Linked DNA regions of Homo sapiens. The protein of the gene in region 1 purifies or fractionates together with the protein of each later gene. This does not show direct contact. Each region holds a gene or a part of one and is shown on either strand. Other genes may lie near its edges.

Region 1 (5,495 bases):
GTGGGCAGCGCCTAGAGGCAGAGCAGGCCAGGAGGGTGGCGGGAAGGAGGCTGGCAGCTTCTATCAGAGAGGAGCTGGCCCTGCACAGCCTCCATCCTGGTGGGGCCTCTGGCGAGCTATAGCAGTAGCCTCCCATCCTTAATGGCTTTGCCCAGTGGTTTCACCCACGTGCTTCCAAGCCAGCTCTTAATGATGGGAGAGGGAGGGCCTCTGTGGGGGTCTCATGATCTCTGGCACCTTCCCTCGGCCCACAGGTCATCATCATCTGCTTGGTGGTTCTGGATGCCCTCCTGGTGCTTGCTGAGCTCATCCTGGACCTGAAGATCATCCAGCCCGACAAGAATAACTATGCTGCCATGGTAGGGGTTGACAGCTCTTCTGGGGTCTTACTGATATGTTTTGCTTGTGTTATCTGCACAGACGGGGTGCAGAGTGGAGCAGCTGACACCCCACTTGGAGTAGCAAGGTCTGTGGTAGTTTGATAGGTGTTTTCGTCTTCCTTTCCAGAATATGGATTAGCATTTACTACAAGCAGGAAACGTTGTTTCACATGATGGCTGGAATCCTGGGCGATGCTAGGCTAGTGAGCTGGAGCATGTGGGGTGGATCCACTCTGCCATCTCTGGGTCAGGAGGGGCATTCCTCCTGTCTTCTGTTGATGGTCTGCATGGTCCCCTTGCTGGGCCATCAGGGGATCTGCTGTTTATTCACTGATTCAGTTACTGAGCCCATCCCAGATGTTCACCCAAAGGGTGGTGGACATACCCTGTCTCAGTTCCAAGGGCGGAGATCAAGAGAGTTAAAATCATCCCTGGTTGGGCATGGTGGCTCACACCTTTAGTCTCTGCACTTTGGGAGGACAAGGCGGGTGGATCACCTGAGGTCAGGAGTTCGAGACCAGCCTGGCCAACATAATGAAACCAAATCTCTACTAAAAGTACAAAAAAGTAGCTGGGCGTGGTGGCATGCGCCTGTAATCCCAGCTACTCAGGAGGCTGAGGCAGGAGAATCGCTTGAACCCCAGAGGCGGAGGCTGCAGTGAGCCGAGATAGCGCCACTGCACTCCAGCCCGGGCAACAAGAGCAAAACTCCGTCTCCAGGAAAAAAAAAAAAAAAAAAAAGCATTTCCCCCCCATCCCCCGCCATGCCCTTTTTTGGAAAAACAAAATGGAATTGATATGCAAATGTATGTCTTTGCAAGTGGTGAAAACGGCAGAATATGAAACTTCCTCCTTCTTCCTGATACCTTTCCCAGAGGCAGCCCTGTGACATCTCCTATGCCAGCATAGGAGGAGAATCTTCCCTGTCCATCTGTTTTCTCCTAAATAATTGTTTTCATGTTTCTCAGAGACTGGGTCTTGAACCCCAGGGCTCAAGTGATCCACCCACCTCTGCCTCCCAAAGTGCTGGGATTACAGGCGTGCGACACTGCACTTGGCTCTCTTCCTCTATTTTTAATAGAATCCATTAACATACCTGCCATACTTATTGTCTTTTTTTCTCTCAACTTTTTATGAAAAATGGCAAAGACACATTTTGCTGTGTTTGCTTTGTCACTATACATCCCCACGGACGCACACACGCTTCCGTCTGGCCATTTGACTTCACAACCCTTCACTCCTAAATACTTCAACGTGCCTAATAAGGTTTTTCTCCCATGGAGCCATAAGAGCACCATCAGATCTAAAATAAGATCAATAGTCCCACCTAACAACCACTTTTATTCACTCATCCCAAATGTCTCTCTTTATTTTTTTGAGACAGTCTCTATCGCCCAGGCTGGAGTGCAGTGGCACTATCTCATCTCACTGCAACGTCCGCCTCCTGAGTTCAAGCGATTCTCCTGCCTCCAGCTCCAGAGTAACTGGGATTACAGGTGCCCGCCACCACACCCAGCTAATTTTTTTATTTTTAGTAGAGATGAGATTTCACCATGTTGGCCAGGCTGGTATCGAACTCCTGACCTCAAGTGATCTGCCCACTTCGGCCTCCCAAAGTGCTGGGATTACAGGCAAGAGCCACCGTGTCCAGCCCAAGAATGTCTTTAATGGCAGTTTTTTTCAAACTAGGATAGAGAATTCCAATATTCTATTTGGTTATGTCTCCTTGGAATTTTTAATTTTTTTTTTTACTTGAGACAGAGTCTTGCCCTGTCACCCAGGCTGGAGTGCAGGAGCACTTAACAGCTCACTGTAGTCTTGATCTCATGGGCTCAAGCCTTCCTCCCGCCTCAGCCTCCTGAGTAGCTAGAACCACAGACATGCACCACCACACCCAGCTAATTTTTAAATTTTTTGTAGAGACAGGGTTTCCTTGTGTTGCCCAGGCTGGTCTTGAACTCCCAGGCTCAAACAATCCTCCTGTCTTGGCCTCCCAAAGTGCTGGGATTACAGGTGTGAGCCACTGCACCCGGCCTCCCTGGGCTTTCTTAATCTAGAGAAATCCTCCTGCTTTTCTTTTTCCTTCATGACAATGACTCTTGGAAGAGCCCAGCCAGTAGAATGTCCCATGTTCTGGATTTGTCTGATGATTTTGAGGTCTCCTGCCTTGTTTCTTCATTTCCTGCACACCACGGTTAGGTCCAGGGCTTGATCAGCAGGGAGTCTTCATTGGCTGGCGATGTTCTGGATGTGGCATTTTCAGGAGGCACACCACGCCAGGGGTCCCACTCAGTTGGGTCACTTGCTGGACTGCTCCACTGGCCAGGGGCATTTTTCCCGTTGCAGTGGTAAATGATCTGCCTGGTACTGCTTTGGTAGCATGCAAATATCCTCTTCCCCAGTTGGCATCTGTTGGTGAAACTTGCCTGAGTCAGTGACTACACTAGGGAATGCAAAATGGTGATTTTCTGTCTTTCCTTCTACATTTAGTAGTAGGTACTCTTCTATAAAAAAGCACTTCCCTGTTTTCCCATGTGTGTATGTATGTGTGCATGGGTGTATGTGCCGCACTGTGAATTTTTTTATTCACTGTGTTACAATCAATCTTAGTCATTCTTTTCAATGTTCAGATTGTCCCAAATGTTGTCACTGTGAGCCTCTTCAAGTTGACTGCTGGGTCCTGTTGACATGACTCTGTGATGTCTTTGAAGACTTCCTTGCTGGCAAAAGACGTCCTTGCCCACATTGTACCTCCCCTGCCTCAGATCTGGAAATGGTTATCTTGGTGTGAGGACTGGTTATTTTATTTTATATTTTTATTTTTTGAGACAGTCTCACTTGTCACCCAGGCTGGAGTGCAGTGGTGCAATCTCGGCTCACTGCAACCTCTCCTCCGTGTTCAAGCAATTCTCCTGCCTCAGCCTCCCAAATAGCTGGGACTACAGGCATGCACCACCATGCCTAACTTTTTGTATTTTTTTAGTACAGACAGGTTTTCACCATGTTGGCCAACGTGGTCTCAAACTCCGGGCCTCAGGTGATCTGCCCGCCTTGGCCTCCCAAAGTGCTGGGATTACAGGCATGAGCCACTGTGCCCAGCCAGGACTAGATCAAGATCTTGGAACCCTTTTCACTTTACACCACCTTGGTGATCACTCCTAATTGGAACATATGGATCTGCCTCCATTCATTCATTCATTCAGTTATTTTAGAGATGGGGTCTTGCTATGTTGCCCAGACTGGCCTCAAACTGGGCTCTTGGCAGGAGGCCCCACCTAGCCTCCTGAGTAACTGGGACTATTGGCTCGAGCCACCACACCCAGCTTAATCTTTTTAACAAGTGTGTCCTTAGGGCCCCATATGGAGGTGTCACCATTCATTTCAAGAGTAACTTCTAATGGACATTTCTGTCTAATGGACATTTCTGTTGTCTTACAATGCAGAAAGTATTTGTTCTGCAAACAGTGCTGCAGTAAATATCCTTAGTCCCTGTGCACACAGGAGCTCAGCTGTAGGGTAAGTTCTTAGCCATGGAATTGCTGGTCCAAAGGGTCTAGAGGATGCTTTAATTCTGACATTGCCTAATTGCCCTTTAGAGAGCAGGTGCCTCATCTGTGGTGTTCACAGCTGTGTTTCCAGCACTGGGCATCTGGATTTGTCCACCAGAGGAATTCTCTTGCTGGTGACCAGGCAGGTGCATGTGAGGGCAGCTTGACCTCCCAGAGGCCCAATCTCCCCTGACTGTGGTTCCTTGTCCCCTTCAGGTATTCCACTACATGAGCATCACCATCTTGGTCTTTTTTATGATGGAGATCATCTTTAAATTATTTGTCTTCCGCCTGGAGTTCTTTCACCACAAGTTTGAGATCCTGGATGCCGTCGTGGTGGTGGTCTCATTCATCCTCGACATTGTCCTCCTGTTCCAGGAGCACCAGTTTGAGGCTCTGGGCCTGCTGATTCTGCTCCGGCTGTGGCGGGTGGCCCGGATCATCAATGGTACGTCTCCTGCACTCCCAGGCTGTGGATGGAGAGTAGGGGCCCAGGCATACATCCAAGGCCTGACTGCGCAGTCACTCTGGGTGCCTGAGCTCACAGTGGCTCCTGTTATGGAGGCCTCCCCTCTGCCCCCTCACCTCCCTCTCCTCCCTTCTTCCTCTTCAGCCCTTTAGGAGCTGGTTATAAGCAGGTTTACGTCAAGCAAATAAAATGAAACAGGTTGGGTGCAGTGGTCATGCCTGTAATCCCAGCACTTTGGGAGGCTGAGTCAGGAGGATCACTTGAGCCCAGGAGTTCGAGACCAACCTGGGCAACATGGTGAAACCCCCATCTCTACAAAACAAAAAATACAAACATCAGTTGGGTGTGGTGGTGCACACATGTAGTCCCAGCCACTGGGGAGGCTGAGGTGGGAGGATTGCTTGAGCCCAGGATTTGGAGGCTGCAATAAGCCAAGATTGTGCACTGCACTCTAGCCTGGGTGACAGAGCCAGACCCCATCTCAAAAAAAAAAAAAAAAACTGGACTCTTGTCAAAGGAAAGAAAAAAAAGCCTTTCAGTTCCTACAGAAGATGCCTGTTATGGGGAAAGGGGGCATTTCCCAGCCTGTGCTTTCGTGGCATCTATGGACACCGCTGTTGTGCACCCACATGATTGTGAACAGGTTCTAGGTTAAGAATCCTAATGCTCATCTTGTCAGTGATTATTTTTAAGGATTTCTCAGCCATGCCAGCTAAAGAGAGATACTGTGTAACTGGGTACTAAGTAGCTCAGACACAAAACCCTGACCTCCCAGTTCTGATGCCCTAAAGTGATGACTGTCTCGCGTGTCTGTCACCACTCCTCCAAACTCTATACAGGTGTAAGAATACAGATTTTTTTCCTGAGTGGTTAAGTTAGAAACCAGTATCACTGAGACCCCCAATTTTATTTCAGGGATTATCATCTCAGTTAAGACACGTTCAGAACGGCAACTCTTAAGGTTAAAACAGATGAATGTACAATTGGCCGCCAAGATTCAACACCTTGAGTTCAGCTGCTCTGAGAAGGTAAGAAAGACGACACATCTGGGGACCAGGCGTGGTGGCTCATGCCTGTAATCCTAGCACTTTGGGAGGC
Region 2 (4,284 bases), on another chromosome or scaffold:
GTTGCAGGGCTAGAAACATTCTTCTCTTCCTCATAGTTTACTTCTACCCATCTACATGCTTTGATGGAAGTGCTCGCAGGAGGTGCTTCCTTATCTTCGTGTATGTCATGACATCTGTCCTTTTCTTGAGGCCCAGAACACACATTCTCCCATCCTTTCCCAGCCAGGCAACCCAATGGATACCAGCCTCACTTTCCCGTATTTTTCCTGACTGGTTCCCAGAGTACAAAGCACAGGACAACTTCGCTAACTCACCCTGATCTTTGACCTATACTCTGGGTATAAATCTGCCTGTACCTTACCCTTGAGATGTCCTGCTCTAGGGGATGATGCCTGAAGGGAAACATTTGATGAATCACAGTAATTGAGGCTCCGATTTCTGTGTCCTGGTAGAACCATGTGATAGTGAACCAAAACATGACCATTGATTCCTTTTCCCATATTCTGATCTTACCTGGAAACCCGTGCTCTCAGATTTTGTGGGGTTATCTGGCAGATAGACGGTGACAACAGTCCCATCTGGTGAAGGCTTAGGATATTAGGATGTTTCTTACTTCTTATTGTTTGAAGAAACAGTTGTGAATAAAAATTAATCAAAATTAGAGGCCAGGCACAGTGGCTTACACCTGTAATGCCAGCACTTTGCGAGGCCGAGGCGGGCGAATCATCTGAGGTTGGGAGTTTGACACCAGACTGGCCAACATGGTAAAACCCCTTCTCTACTAAAAGAAAAATACAAAAAAAAAAAAAAAGTAGCCAGGTGCGGTCGCACATGTCTGTAATCCCAACTACGTGGAAGGCTGAGGCACAAGAATTGCTTGAACCTGGGAGGCAGAGGTCGCAGTGAGCTGAGATCGCACCACTGCACTCCAGTCTGGCCAACAGAACGAGACTCTGTCTCAAAAATAAATTAATTAATCAAAATTAATTGTCCAGCTTTGATTTAGAATCTTAACTGCTATTACACGTCTCTTCTGTCTACCTTCAAATAGGTCATCTAATACATGGGAGAAACATGGATTTTGGAGTATTTCTTGGGTAAGTAAAGAACAAAGGGTCAGGCATGGTGGTTCACGCCTGTAATCCCAGCTTTTTGGGAGGCTGACACGGGTGGATCACGAGGTCAGGAGTTCAAGACCAGCCTGGCCAAGATGGTGAAACCCCGTCTCTACTAAAAACATAAAAATTAGCCAGGCATGGTGGTGGGCATCTGTAATCCCGGCTACTTGGGAGCCTGAGGCAGAGACTTTTTTGAACCTGCGAGGCGGAGGTTGCAGTGAGCCGAGATCGCGCCACTGCACTGCAGCTTGGGATACAGAGCCAGACTCCATCTCAAAAAAAAAAAAAAAAAAAAGAACACAGAACTGTTTTGGTCTGTAGGAAGAGTAGGTTGTGTTATATTGATGATAAGTAAGTCCCAAGTCACACCCAAAATGTGATCATAAGTGAAGATAAATGGATTGCTTGAGTGCTGAGACAAGAGGGACATGCTCTTCTATTTTATGTGTCCATCTTGACCTTTCTGAAAAAATAAGAATATTGTAATTAGCATTCTATGTTTGAATCTGAGGCTCACTATTTATAAGCTGTGTGATATTGAGAGAGTTACCTGACTTCTCTGAACCTCAATTTTATCATTTGGAAAACAGAATAAATATACCATATTGTAAAGGTCTTGTTAGGATTGATCGTGGTGACTCGGTAAATAAAGCTCCTAGTGTAATGCCTGGCCCTCATCATCATGTTGATCATTACTATCACTGTGTTTCTGAAATGTCACTGAAACATGTCTTTTATAGGTGGAACATAAATAATGATACCTGGGTCATAACTGAGCAACTAAAACCTTTAACAGTGAATTTGGATTTCCAAAGAAACAACAAAACTGTCTTCAAGGCTTCAAGCTTTGCTGGCTATGTGGGCATGTTAACAGGATTCAAACCAGTAAGGAGTCTGTTGTTACATAATTATACAGGTAGCCTTCTGTCCTGTTACCGTTATGTAAAAGTTGAAATCTAAGAATATGAGGACCTAAAGGGAATATGAAGCCCCATTTCACCCCCTTGTACTTCTTGTCACTTCATAGGTATGAGATCTCGTGGTAGAGAAGAGTAGAAAGGAAACGGAGGTTTCTGAGCCTCTTCTGGGATAAAGAGCATGTGGCTGGGTGTCAAGGGCTGGGAGTCACAATCTGATTTCTAGTCCTGGGTCTTCCGCTCACTTAGGCAAGTCAGGCGTTCATTCTCTGCCCTTCAGTTTCCTGTCCAAAAAGCGTTGCCAGTGATACCCCACCTACTTATCTCACATACTAGAATCAAAAATGCTTTGAACTTTTTAAAAAGCCTTTTATGGTTTTGATTTATTTTTGCCTTCCCCATTACCCAAGCTAGGCCTTTATATCCCACTCTGAAGTACAGTGAGCGACAGGGCCTTAAAGCGCATGGTTGATGTTTCTGACTTCGTTGCTTTGTCTTTTTCTCAGGGACTGTTCAGTCTTACACTGAATGAACGTTTCAGTATAAATGGTGGTTATCTGGGTAAGTAGAGCATTCTCAAGTGAAATGGGAATCTCAGAGCTTTTTTATGAGGAAGGCTGGACTGTGCCTTCTGGTTACAAAGTCCAACCTCTTCCGGTTCCCGACTGGTTACAAAGTCTAACCTCTTCTGGTTCCTGACTGGTTATATAGTCCAGCCTCTTCCGGGTCCTGACTGGTTACATAGTGTCACCTCTTCCGGTTCCTGACATTGTGTTCATCTCTTCCAGGTATTCTAGAATGGATTCTGGGAAAGAAAGATGTCATGTGGATAGGGTTCCTCACTAGAACAGTTCTGGAAAATAGCACAAGGTAAAGTGTTTCGTTGCTTTACTATTAAATATTTATTTTAAATTACTCATATTAAAAAATAAAAATATTTGTCAAGCTCCAGCTTAATCCTTTGAGGAACTATTGCAGAATTTCTTAGGTGAACCTCTGACACTCATGTGGAATTACTCATGTTTTCTTCGTGCAGACTGTGTGTTTTATAGCAAATAAATGAATTACTTAAAAAGCACTAGGGATACTGACATTATGAAAGGCACCTATGAATATTTTTGGTGTACAGAAAAAAAATGACCCACACACAAAAGAACAGTCATACAGTAAAATCTTCATTTAAATGGTAGTACAGACCAGGCACAGTGGCTTATGCCTGTAATCCTCACGCTTTGGGTGGCTGAGATAGACAGATGACTTGCACCCAGGGGTTTGAGACCAGTCTGAGCAACATGGCGAAACCCCGTCTCTATAAAAAATACAAAAATTAGCCAGGCATGGTGACACGTGCCTGCCTGTAGTCCCAGCTACTCAGGAGGCTGAGGTGGGAGGATCACCTGAGCCCAAGGAGGTCGAGACTGCAGTGAGCTGGGATCAGTCCACTGCACTTCACCCTGAGTGATAGAGTGAGACTCTGTCTTAAAAAAACAAAATAAATAAATACAAAATGTACTACATATTAACCTGTAAGTTATATCTTGCCTTGGTATAGAAATCTTACAATAGCAAAACTGCCTTTCCTTCATTCAGCCAGCACTGCGTCCAAATAAATGGGCATCAATCCTATTTTTAATACTTCCCAGGGAATAAGATTTAATGTTAGTAGTGTTCTTTGATAACCCACTTCAATTTTTAATAGTCCTAATTTTCAAGAAGGTTTACTTTCTGTTCTCTAAGTCCTACATACTGTAATATTATTTCCCTTTGTTCTGTTGTTGAGTGAAAGGCATGGACAGTAAGGGTGGAAGATGATCTCTTGAGGCCACTTTGTTTCTCCTTCAGATTAGAGGGGCTTCCTAAGATTCCCGCTTCCCATCTCAGTGTTCACCATACAGGGTCAGGGATTGCTTTTCCCAGAGGCATTGCTCACCATCCTTTTTTAGAAAACACATTGTGGCTGGCCATGGTGGCTCATGCCTGTAATCCCAGTACTTTGGGAGGCGAAGGCAAGAGTATCGCTTGTGCCAAGGAGTTCGAGACCAGCCTGGGCAACAGAGTGAGAGCCCATCTCTAAAAATAGAAATAAATAAATAACACATTCCTTAGATACTTGTTTTTCTTTAGTTTCTACAGAGCTAAACATTTCCGTTCTAAGTCATCTAAAAATGTTTCCCACCATCATCCTCAGCAAACTAACACAGGAACAGAAAACCGAACACTGCATGTTCTCACTCATAAGTGAGAGCTGAACAAAGAGAACACGTGAACACAGGGAGGGGAACATCACGCACCAGGGCCTGTCAGGGGG
Region 3 (4,284 bases), on another chromosome or scaffold:
TCTTACCCAACTCTGGGCCCAGCCTCTCCCTAAGTAGGGGAACAGGATGTTCAGCAGGATTGCTGGGGCCACAGAGGGCCAGGCTCAGAGCTTGCATGTGTGTGTGTGCCTAACGCTGCCTCTTTTGGCAGAGGAGACTTCTGTTGGGAAGCTTAAAGATTACAGAGCAAAATAAGAGCCCCAGCCACCAGCTAAGGACATTTTCTAGCTTGGACCTCTAGAGGAGGGAGGGCTGAGAGTCTTGCTTCCTGGGGTGAAGGTGGCTGATGGAACAGGCCCTGAGAAGTTGCTCTGTCCAGGTGCCAAGGTAGTGTGTGGAATCGATGTGCTGACTTGGAGTTAGAAGGGAGATCAAGTCCTAATTCCACCTCTGCCAAGATCAGTGATGGTGGCAGCTGACTAAACCAAAGTCTCAATCTTCTACTTCTTCAAAACAGATGAAGTTACCTGCTCTACTTATAGCATTCTTGAACTATTTGTTAAGTGTAATCTGTTGGATACAAAGATTAGGAGCATGCTTTGGCAGACAGCGGGGATACAGTCAAAACCGTGGGGTCTGGGAGCCAGAGCACAGAGTTCGAATGCCAGCTGTGTCACTTGATGGCCATGCGGCCTTTAAGAAGCTATTAGCCATTCCTGAGCCTCAGTTTTTCATGAGTCAAACAAGCCTAATAATACCTATCCCACAGAGTTGCTGTGAGAATTAAGAGATACTGGCCATGAATGGCTCTGTAAGTGGTAAACATTACCCAAAGACCCAGGATCACTTTATTCGACATTTTATTGTGGTCTGTCCTCTTGGGCATTGTGGTATGTGAGGTCTGGCTCCAGGCCTGCTGCCAACAAGGGCCATGTCCAGTATGGGGTGCTGACAGTTTGGTAGAAAAACATTCCACCTGTTCCAAATGCTCTCTGATAAACCCTCCTTACGGTTCCACAGCTTAGGACTGTCCTGGCACAATGGCTGAGTCAGGAAAACTGGCTTTTTCTGGCACATGGGGACAGGAGCAGAGGACAAGCTCAGGCACATCACCCTTCTGCAAACGATTTGCTAGCACAACAGCGTGCCTGTGTCTGCTGTGCCTGGGCACATGCCAGAGCGCTGCTGGCAGCAACCCACATGTGCTGTGCAGAAAGGAATGGGATTGGGAGCGCGTGTTATGGGGACCTGGAGAATGGGCAGAGCCCAGGATGGGAAAACAGGCAACTTTAGCAGCGGGTGAGATGGCTGGGAAGGGGCAAATTCATAATCAGGAATTCCTGAGCCATCAGAAGGAAAAGGATGACTCAGGACCCACTAATAGTGAGAACAACCCAACTGTTTCAGACTGTTAGGGTTCCCTCACACGCCTAGCTCCTAATGATTATGTTTGCCAAGTAGAATAGATATTATATTCCCATTTGCTTTGCTTTGTTTTGTTTTGTTTTGAGATGAAGTCTCACTCTGTCACCCAGGCTGAAGTGCAGTGGCATGATCTTGGCTCAATGCAACCTCTGCCTCCCAAGTTCAAGTGATTCTCTTGCCTCAGCCTCCCAAGTAGCTGGGACTACGGGCATGTGCCATCACACCCGGCTAATTTTTTGTATTTTTAGTAGAGACAGGGTTTCACCATGTTGGCCAGGGTGGTCTCGAACTCCTGACCTCAAGTGATCTGCCTGCTTCGGCCTCCCAAGTGCTGGGATTACAGGCGTGAGCCACCGCACCTGGCCTATATCCCCATTTGAAAGATAAGTAAACTGAGGCTTAGAGGCTAGCTAACTGATGGCTGAACTAGAACCAGCATGCATTGATGAGGTGGGGGATGATGACTGACCCACTCTAGTCAGAATACAGAACCTGGCATAGAGTGGGAGAGCAATCAGAATGGCTGAATACCCAGCACTTTGGGAGTCCAAGCTGGGTGGATCACTTGAGCCCAGGAGTTCAAGACCAGCCTGGACAACATGGCGAAACTGTTTCCACAAAAAAATATAAAAATTAGCCAGGCATGGTGGCACACAAGTGTAGTCCCAGCTACTCGGGAGGATGAGGTGGGATGATCACCTGGGCCTGGGGAGGTTGAGGATACAGTGAGCTGTGATCACACTGCTGCACTCCAGCCTGGGCAACAGAGTGAGACCCTGTCTTAGGAAAAAAAAAAAGAATAGCTGAATAAATCAACGAACACAACTTCAGCCTTCTTCCCACCACACTGCTAGTGTAAGGCAGTGAAAACAAATGAGAGACTAATCTGAGGGTGCACATTTCAAACTAAGAAAGCAGAACTGGAAGAAGGGTCCTGGGAACCAAACATGAGGGCACAGCATAATTTCCCCCCAATCTAATCGGGTGCCTACTTGTTTTCCCTCGTGACACAATGAAGCATCCTTCAGAAATTAAGACACCTAGGTCTAGAGTAACTGAGAGGAAGCCAAGGGGATTGTTTCAGCTTTGGAGGGTTCTAGTTCTGATTAAGGGTTTAAAGTGGCAGAGTTCCACTCAGTGAAGATTGATTTGACATCACTATGTGCTCAGCATGATGCTAGGAACACAAGAGTCACAGCAATATGGTCTGAGCTCTCAGGGAACTTGCAATCTAGCTGAAGGGACAAAATCAGTGCACATCTAACAGCAGCACAGAGTAAAATCCCGGAGAATGAACACATGCCAAGCTGCACAGTGAGACTCAGCTACACTCTACATGGCTGCCTCCTTGTTCTACAGTCTTAGCTTTTATGACAACTCCTCAGAGAGATCTTCCTGGTCCACATCAAGTCATTCCCCCTGTTGTTCTCTCTCACTGCACTCTACTGTAGTTAGATATTTACTGCTTATCTGCTACTTGTTTACTATGTCTCTCAATTAGAAGGTAAGCTCTAGTGGGAAAGAGCCAGACCGTGTTTGTTTTATTCACCAATATATTCCCATGTATCACACATGGTAGACACTCAAAAGCTACCTGTTAAATGGATAATGAATAGATGGATGGGTGTGGAAATTCACAGTAAAAACACAAGCGATCCAGAGAGGTCAGGGAAACCTTTCTGAAGAAGTAGGCCTTTAAGAATTGGGAGGATTTAGCGGGTGTGGTGGCTCACGCCTGTAATCCCAGCACTTTGGGAGGCCGAGGTGGGTGGATCACGAGGTCAAGAGATCGAGACCATCCTGGGCAACGTGGTGAAACCCTGTCTCTACGAAAAATACAAAAAAAATTAGTCAAGCATGGTGGCGCCTGCCTCTAGTCCCAGCTACTCAGGAGGCTGAGGCAGGAGAATCCCTTAAACCCGGGAGGTGGAGGTTGCAGTAAGCTGAGATTGTGCCACTGCACTCCAGCCTGGCAACAGAGTGAGACTCTGTCTCAAAAAAAAAAAAAAAAAAAAAAAATTGGGAAGATTTGGAAAGCTGCAGATTTTTTTTTTTTTTTTTGAGATGGAGTCTCGCTCTGTCACCCAGGCTGGAGTGCAGTAGCGTGATCTCAGCTCACTGCAAGCTCCACCTCCTGGGTTCATGCCATTCTCCTGCCTCAGCCTCCCGAGTAGCTGGGACTACAGGCGCCCACCACCATGCCGGGCTAATTTTTTTTTTTTTTTTTTTCAGTAGAGACGGGGTTTCACCATGTTGGTCAGGCTGGTCTCGAACTCTTGGCCTCGTGATCTATCCACCTCGGCCTCCCAAAGTGCTGGGATTACAGGCGTGAGCCACTGTGCCTGGCCAGCTGCAGATTATTCTAAGCAAGAGAAAATATTCAAAATATTTACAGAGGGAGTGCCTACAAGGTACACCAGGCCCTGAACCAGACCCTAAAGCTGACCAAGACTCAGCTACTGCCCTCAACCCCTCATTGTTAGGTAGAGTCTCAGTCAGGCACAGCATGTCTATAGGGCAGTAAGGCAAACGGCCTAAGAGAGAGCACAAGAAATATAAAGGCAGATAGGGCACATAGCAATGGCAACAGTTCACAGAAGGCCTGGAAGTTCAGGGAGCAATTTGGACCTAATGTCACAGAAAACAGGGAGGTTCCCAAAGCGTCCAGGGAGGGGGAACAATCCAAGCAAGATTCTAGGAAAAGGTTGCTGTAGAACAGCGCTGTCCAATAGAACTTTTTGTGACTATGGAACTGTTCTGTATCTGCACTGTCCAAGATGGTAGTCACATATAGTAACTGAGTACCTGAGGATCTGAATTTTCCATTTTATTTAATTAATTTAAATTAAAATAGCTGCATGTGTTTAGTATCAAATAGCTCTAGCACCTTGTGACTCCAAGTGTGGTCTGCAAAATGGCTGCACCCCCATCACGTGCAG
Region 4 (4,284 bases), on another chromosome or scaffold:
TTGTTTTTGCTTTTTTTTACATAAGTAGACACAGGTGGGAAACTGTTTAGACGGGCTCACATCACCCCATAAACAAATAGGTTTGGTCCTAGCCTTTCTATTAGCTCTTAGTAAGATTACACATGCAAGCATCCCCATTCCAGTGAGTTCACCCTCTAAATCACCACGATGATTTAGAGGTAAGGACTAAAGGGAAATCAAAGGTAGGGGGAGGTTTCCAACTGTGAATGGGAAGAAGAGCTGAGAATGGAAAACATCATTAAATAGGGGAGTCGGGCCAGACAAGCACAGGTGAGGCAGAGGGAAGTCTCCAGTGATACCCAAGTTATTTACAGAAATGCAGAAATTGGCATTTATGGAGTCGTGATTTCAGGCAGGGAAAGGGGGAAAAAAAACCTTCAGTCAAGATACATTTACTAAGCAATTACACAACTACAGTAAAGGAGACAAAAATTTAATTAAAAAAAGAAAAAGAAAAAGCTACATGGGAAGATATACACACGCACACGCACACACAAACATGCATGATCACAAAGGAACAGCTAACGTAGTCTAGAGCTAAATGAAATATGAGTTTTGCCTTCAAGGATAGTTAGAAATACCAGAAATAGATGAAAACAGTGGGTATTCCAACCAGGAGAATGGGGTGAACAAATGCCTAAGAAATGGTAATGCAAGAAGGGTTTTCAGGGGATAGCCAGAAGGGGCACTAATTTGTGGGGCCAAAGCTAATGTTGACATGAGGAAGGTCACCAAGGGAACAGGAGACATAGGAGGTAATCAGCGCCTATTGAGCATTTTCTCTGTGCCAGACACTCTCTCACCACTTCATTTCATTTCATCCAAATGACCCTGTGAGGTAAGTAATTATTATCTGCACTTTCAATACAAGAAAACTCATGCCCAGGAAAGCTCAGCAACTTGAAAAAAAAAAAAAAAAACTAGGTTTTTTTTTAGCTAGTGAATCTACACTCGGTTTTGTCTCACCCTTCCTGCTACCTCTACCCACCCCATTCACTGACTGTGTGCCTACTGTGAATAGTGAGTGGCCTCAGTGACACACGCCAGATTACAGCTCTCTATGATGTTCCCTCAGTCCATGATTTCACAGGGTACATGTGAAGGAAACCACTAACCCATTTCAGGTGATATAAACATCTCTGAATTTAGGGCACAGAGGAATGAAGAACTGATACATCCTGACACTACTAGACTAGAATGCACTTAGACAAAGTGACTAAATAAACTTACTTTGGTTTAAAATGTTACTGCTTTTAGATGGAAATGCAAATTGGTACAACCACTTTAGAAAACAGTTTGGCAGTTTCTTACAGAGTTAACCGTATGGTTACTTTACAACCCAGCAATCCCATTCCTGGATATTTACCCAAGAGAAATAAAAATGTATACTCACACAGAACCTATATGCAAAGGTTTATAGCAGCTTTATTCATAATCATACCAAACTGGAAACAAGCCGAGCATGGTGGCTCATGCCTATAATCCCAGCACTTTGGGAGGCCAAGGCAGGTGGATCACCTGAAGTCAGGAGTTCAAGACCAGCCTGGCCAACATGGTGAAACCCCATCTCTACTAAAAATACAAAAATTAGCTGAATGTGGTGGCACACGCCTGTAGTCCCAGCTACCTGGGAGGCTGAGGCAGGAGAATTGCTTGAACCCAGGAGGCAGAGGTTGCGATAAGCCAGGGTCACACCACTGCACTCCAGCCTGGGTGACAGAGCAAGACTCAGTCTCAAAGAAAAAAAAAAAAGTGGTATTACTGCGTGTAAATTTGAAAAAATTGTTTTAATGTTATTGCTTTGGAAGACCATTACTGTGGAAAGAAGAAAAGTTTTAAGGTGTAGCTGTATTTCTTCACTTAATCTCTAAAATCCTAACTCAGGCGCGGATTTGGTCTCCAGGCCCCTTCCCCATCCATCTACTGCCAAGAAATAATCTAAGCTTCTGAAGACTGGGGCCACTTTCCAGCTTAGGGTTTGTGGCTGATGTTTTGCTCTGGCTCTTAGGCCCTCAGGAGGAAGCACTCATCTTTAACAAGACCTGCTTTCTCAGGACTGCAAACAAGAGAAAAGCCCAATAAGAGGAAAGTGAAGTGTGAAAATCCATTTCAAAGAACTTTACTGAGAACTCACCATGTCAGAGAGCTTCCATTAATACAGTTGCTTCAAAACCAATAGGCAGAACCCAAAGTAATGGATGACTCACCAGGACTTTTAGCAGCTAATGGAGTACTCTGAGAAATGCTGTAAATCCAATATTTTTGCTGAAAAATTAATGTGTTATGGGAGGGAGCCTCTTTTCTAATCACTTACCCACCCCCACCCTCTACTTCTAGTTCACCATCAGCATCTTTAGCTCTTCTAATTTTTGCCAAAGCTGAATGCAGTTCTTTCCCAATTTTCTTATATCATTTTAAGTATTATATATGCTATCTTACCAGGCCCACTCAGAGAAACAGCACTTATCTTTAAAATTATTTTTTAACTACTCCCCACAGCCTACGGCCAATAAAAACTCTGTAAACTATGTTAAATATACCAAAGTAAAGTTTCCAGAATTCACAGAGAGATCGATAAATATTTACTAAGTGCCTTCTACAGACAAAGCCCTGGGAAGTATAAAGGAGCAAAACATGCACAGTTCTTGTCTCTAAACATGGCTTACAATGTCATTAGGCATATGACCAAAGCTAATAATAATCCAAGGCAAAAAACTTGGGAGATCATATACAAAACAAATGCTATAGGAGTTCAAAGTGGGGAAAGACTGTGGCTGGTGTGGTCAGAGAAAGACAGCTTTGCACAAAGCTGAAAAACTGCAGGAGTGATGGAGAACATTTCTCCCAAACAGGACATTTTCATAAAAGAGAAATCTAGAAACTCCACCTGTAAAATCTCTTTCTTGGAATATATCTCCATAACAAACAGAACTTTAAGGGAAAAAATGACCCCAGTTTCAAAAACACAAAGAATTTCTGGGATTCTGAATTTGGACTAACAGATAACTCCACCAAAATTCATTCTTTACTTGTCTCTGTTTGAAGGTGACATATTTCTGGATGATCTGGGCTTCTTTGGTCATCCACAGTCTGTGCCCCTAGAACTAAGGAAGGTTGTGTACATCTCAGACAGTTTTCACTTGCAACTGAGCCATGTCAGCCGGCTCCAACTGAATTGACTTGGGACCATTCTACTCATTGCATATGGCATGATACAGACTGCCAGAACCCTCATTTCCTTTAGTGCCACATTATCAATTAGGAATGGGAAGGATCCTGGCACATGCCAACCCAACTCCCAAACCCTTCAGTATCTGGCAGTCTTCTATTCTGTACATGCACTCACCAAAATATACATAAACGAATGTTCATAGCAGCACTAGCCATATTAGCCCCAAACCGGAAACTATCCAAATATCCATCAACAGTCAGTAGACAAATTGTAGTATATTCATATCATGGAATACTACAAAACAATGAGGATGAATTTGACAAGCATAACACTTAATCCCAAGAAACCACACACAAAAGAGAACATACTCTATGGTTTTATGTAATATAAAGTTAAAAAGAAACAAGCAAAACTAATAGCATCAGAAGTGAGAATCATGGTTACCCTGAAGCAGGGGGATTTAGGGACTGGAAGGGCCACAAGGGGGATTTCTAGGGTCCCAAAATGTCTGTTTCTTAGTCTGTGAGGTGGTTACAGGGAGCATTTACTTTATGAAAAGTCATCCAACTGTATACTTATGATAACAGTTTTCTATATGAATGCTTCATTTCAATAAAAAGTTTACCTTAGAAAAACTGAAAACTGTTGTATTAAAGGATTATAGTAGGATGAGCAAAACTTACTTTACGGTTGAAAAGCAATGTGTATATTCACATCTATGATTTTTATTTAAACTTCTTATTTAATATGGTGACTTGGTTTTAATTTGTTTAGCCACTAATATATGTTTATTTAGATAAGGAAATATATACTCATAGCAATGTCATATTAAAGAAGGATAATTCTAAAATTAAGGAGCTCTGCCTTGCATACAGGTCAAGGAAGATGATTTATTACTTCATTTCATTGGTTCTGGAAGAAGAAGAGGAGGAGAAGGGAGAGGGGAGAGGGGAAAGGGGATGGGGGAGGAGGGAGGAGGGGAGAAGAAAAACTTCTTCAGGCTCTTCAAAACCTCTGGGAAAAAAATAGGGTTGCCAGAACATGTTCCAGTACTGCACAATTATTTGTTTAAAAATTGTTACAAGCCAAGG

The links. The genes of interacting proteins can lie anywhere in the genome.
Region 2: the proteins of HVCN1 (region 1) and ASAH1 purify together in Homo sapiens (affinity purification with mass spectrometry; one large-scale study listed by BioGRID and IntAct). This does not show direct contact.
Region 3: the proteins of HVCN1 (region 1) and UQCC1 purify together in Homo sapiens (affinity purification with mass spectrometry; one large-scale study listed by BioGRID and IntAct). This does not show direct contact.
Region 4: the proteins of HVCN1 (region 1) and KIF5C purify together in Homo sapiens (affinity purification with mass spectrometry; one large-scale study listed by BioGRID and IntAct). This does not show direct contact.

Annotation. Positions count from the first base shown.
Region 1 is NC_000012.12:110,650,098-110,655,592, reverse strand, and holds part of HVCN1 (voltage-gated hydrogen channel 1), read left to right. Parts: intron 1-254; coding exon 255-359; intron 360-4,144; coding exon 4,145-4,376; intron 4,377-5,312; coding exon 5,313-5,425; intron 5,426-5,495.
Region 2 is NC_000008.11:18,059,939-18,064,222, reverse strand, and holds part of ASAH1 (acid ceramidase isoform a preproprotein), read left to right. Parts: intron 1-992; coding exon 993-1,038; intron 1,039-1,799; coding exon 1,800-1,944; intron 1,945-2,482; coding exon 2,483-2,537; intron 2,538-2,764; coding exon 2,765-2,846; intron 2,847-4,284. UniProt on the Homo sapiens protein: Lysosomal ceramidase that hydrolyzes sphingolipid ceramides into sphingosine and free fatty acids at acidic pH.
Region 3 is NC_000020.11:35,307,305-35,311,588, forward strand, and holds part of UQCC1 (ubiquinol-cytochrome c reductase complex assembly factor 1), read right to left. Parts: intron 1-4,284. UniProt on the Homo sapiens protein: Required for the assembly of the ubiquinol-cytochrome c reductase complex (mitochondrial respiratory chain complex III or cytochrome b-c1 complex). Involved in cytochrome b translation and/or stability.
Region 4 is NC_000002.12:148,877,612-148,881,895, reverse strand, and holds part of KIF5C (kinesin heavy chain), read right to left. Parts: intron 1-4,284. UniProt on the Homo sapiens protein: Microtubule-associated force-producing protein that may play a role in organelle transport. Has ATPase activity. Involved in synaptic transmission. Mediates dendritic trafficking of mRNAs.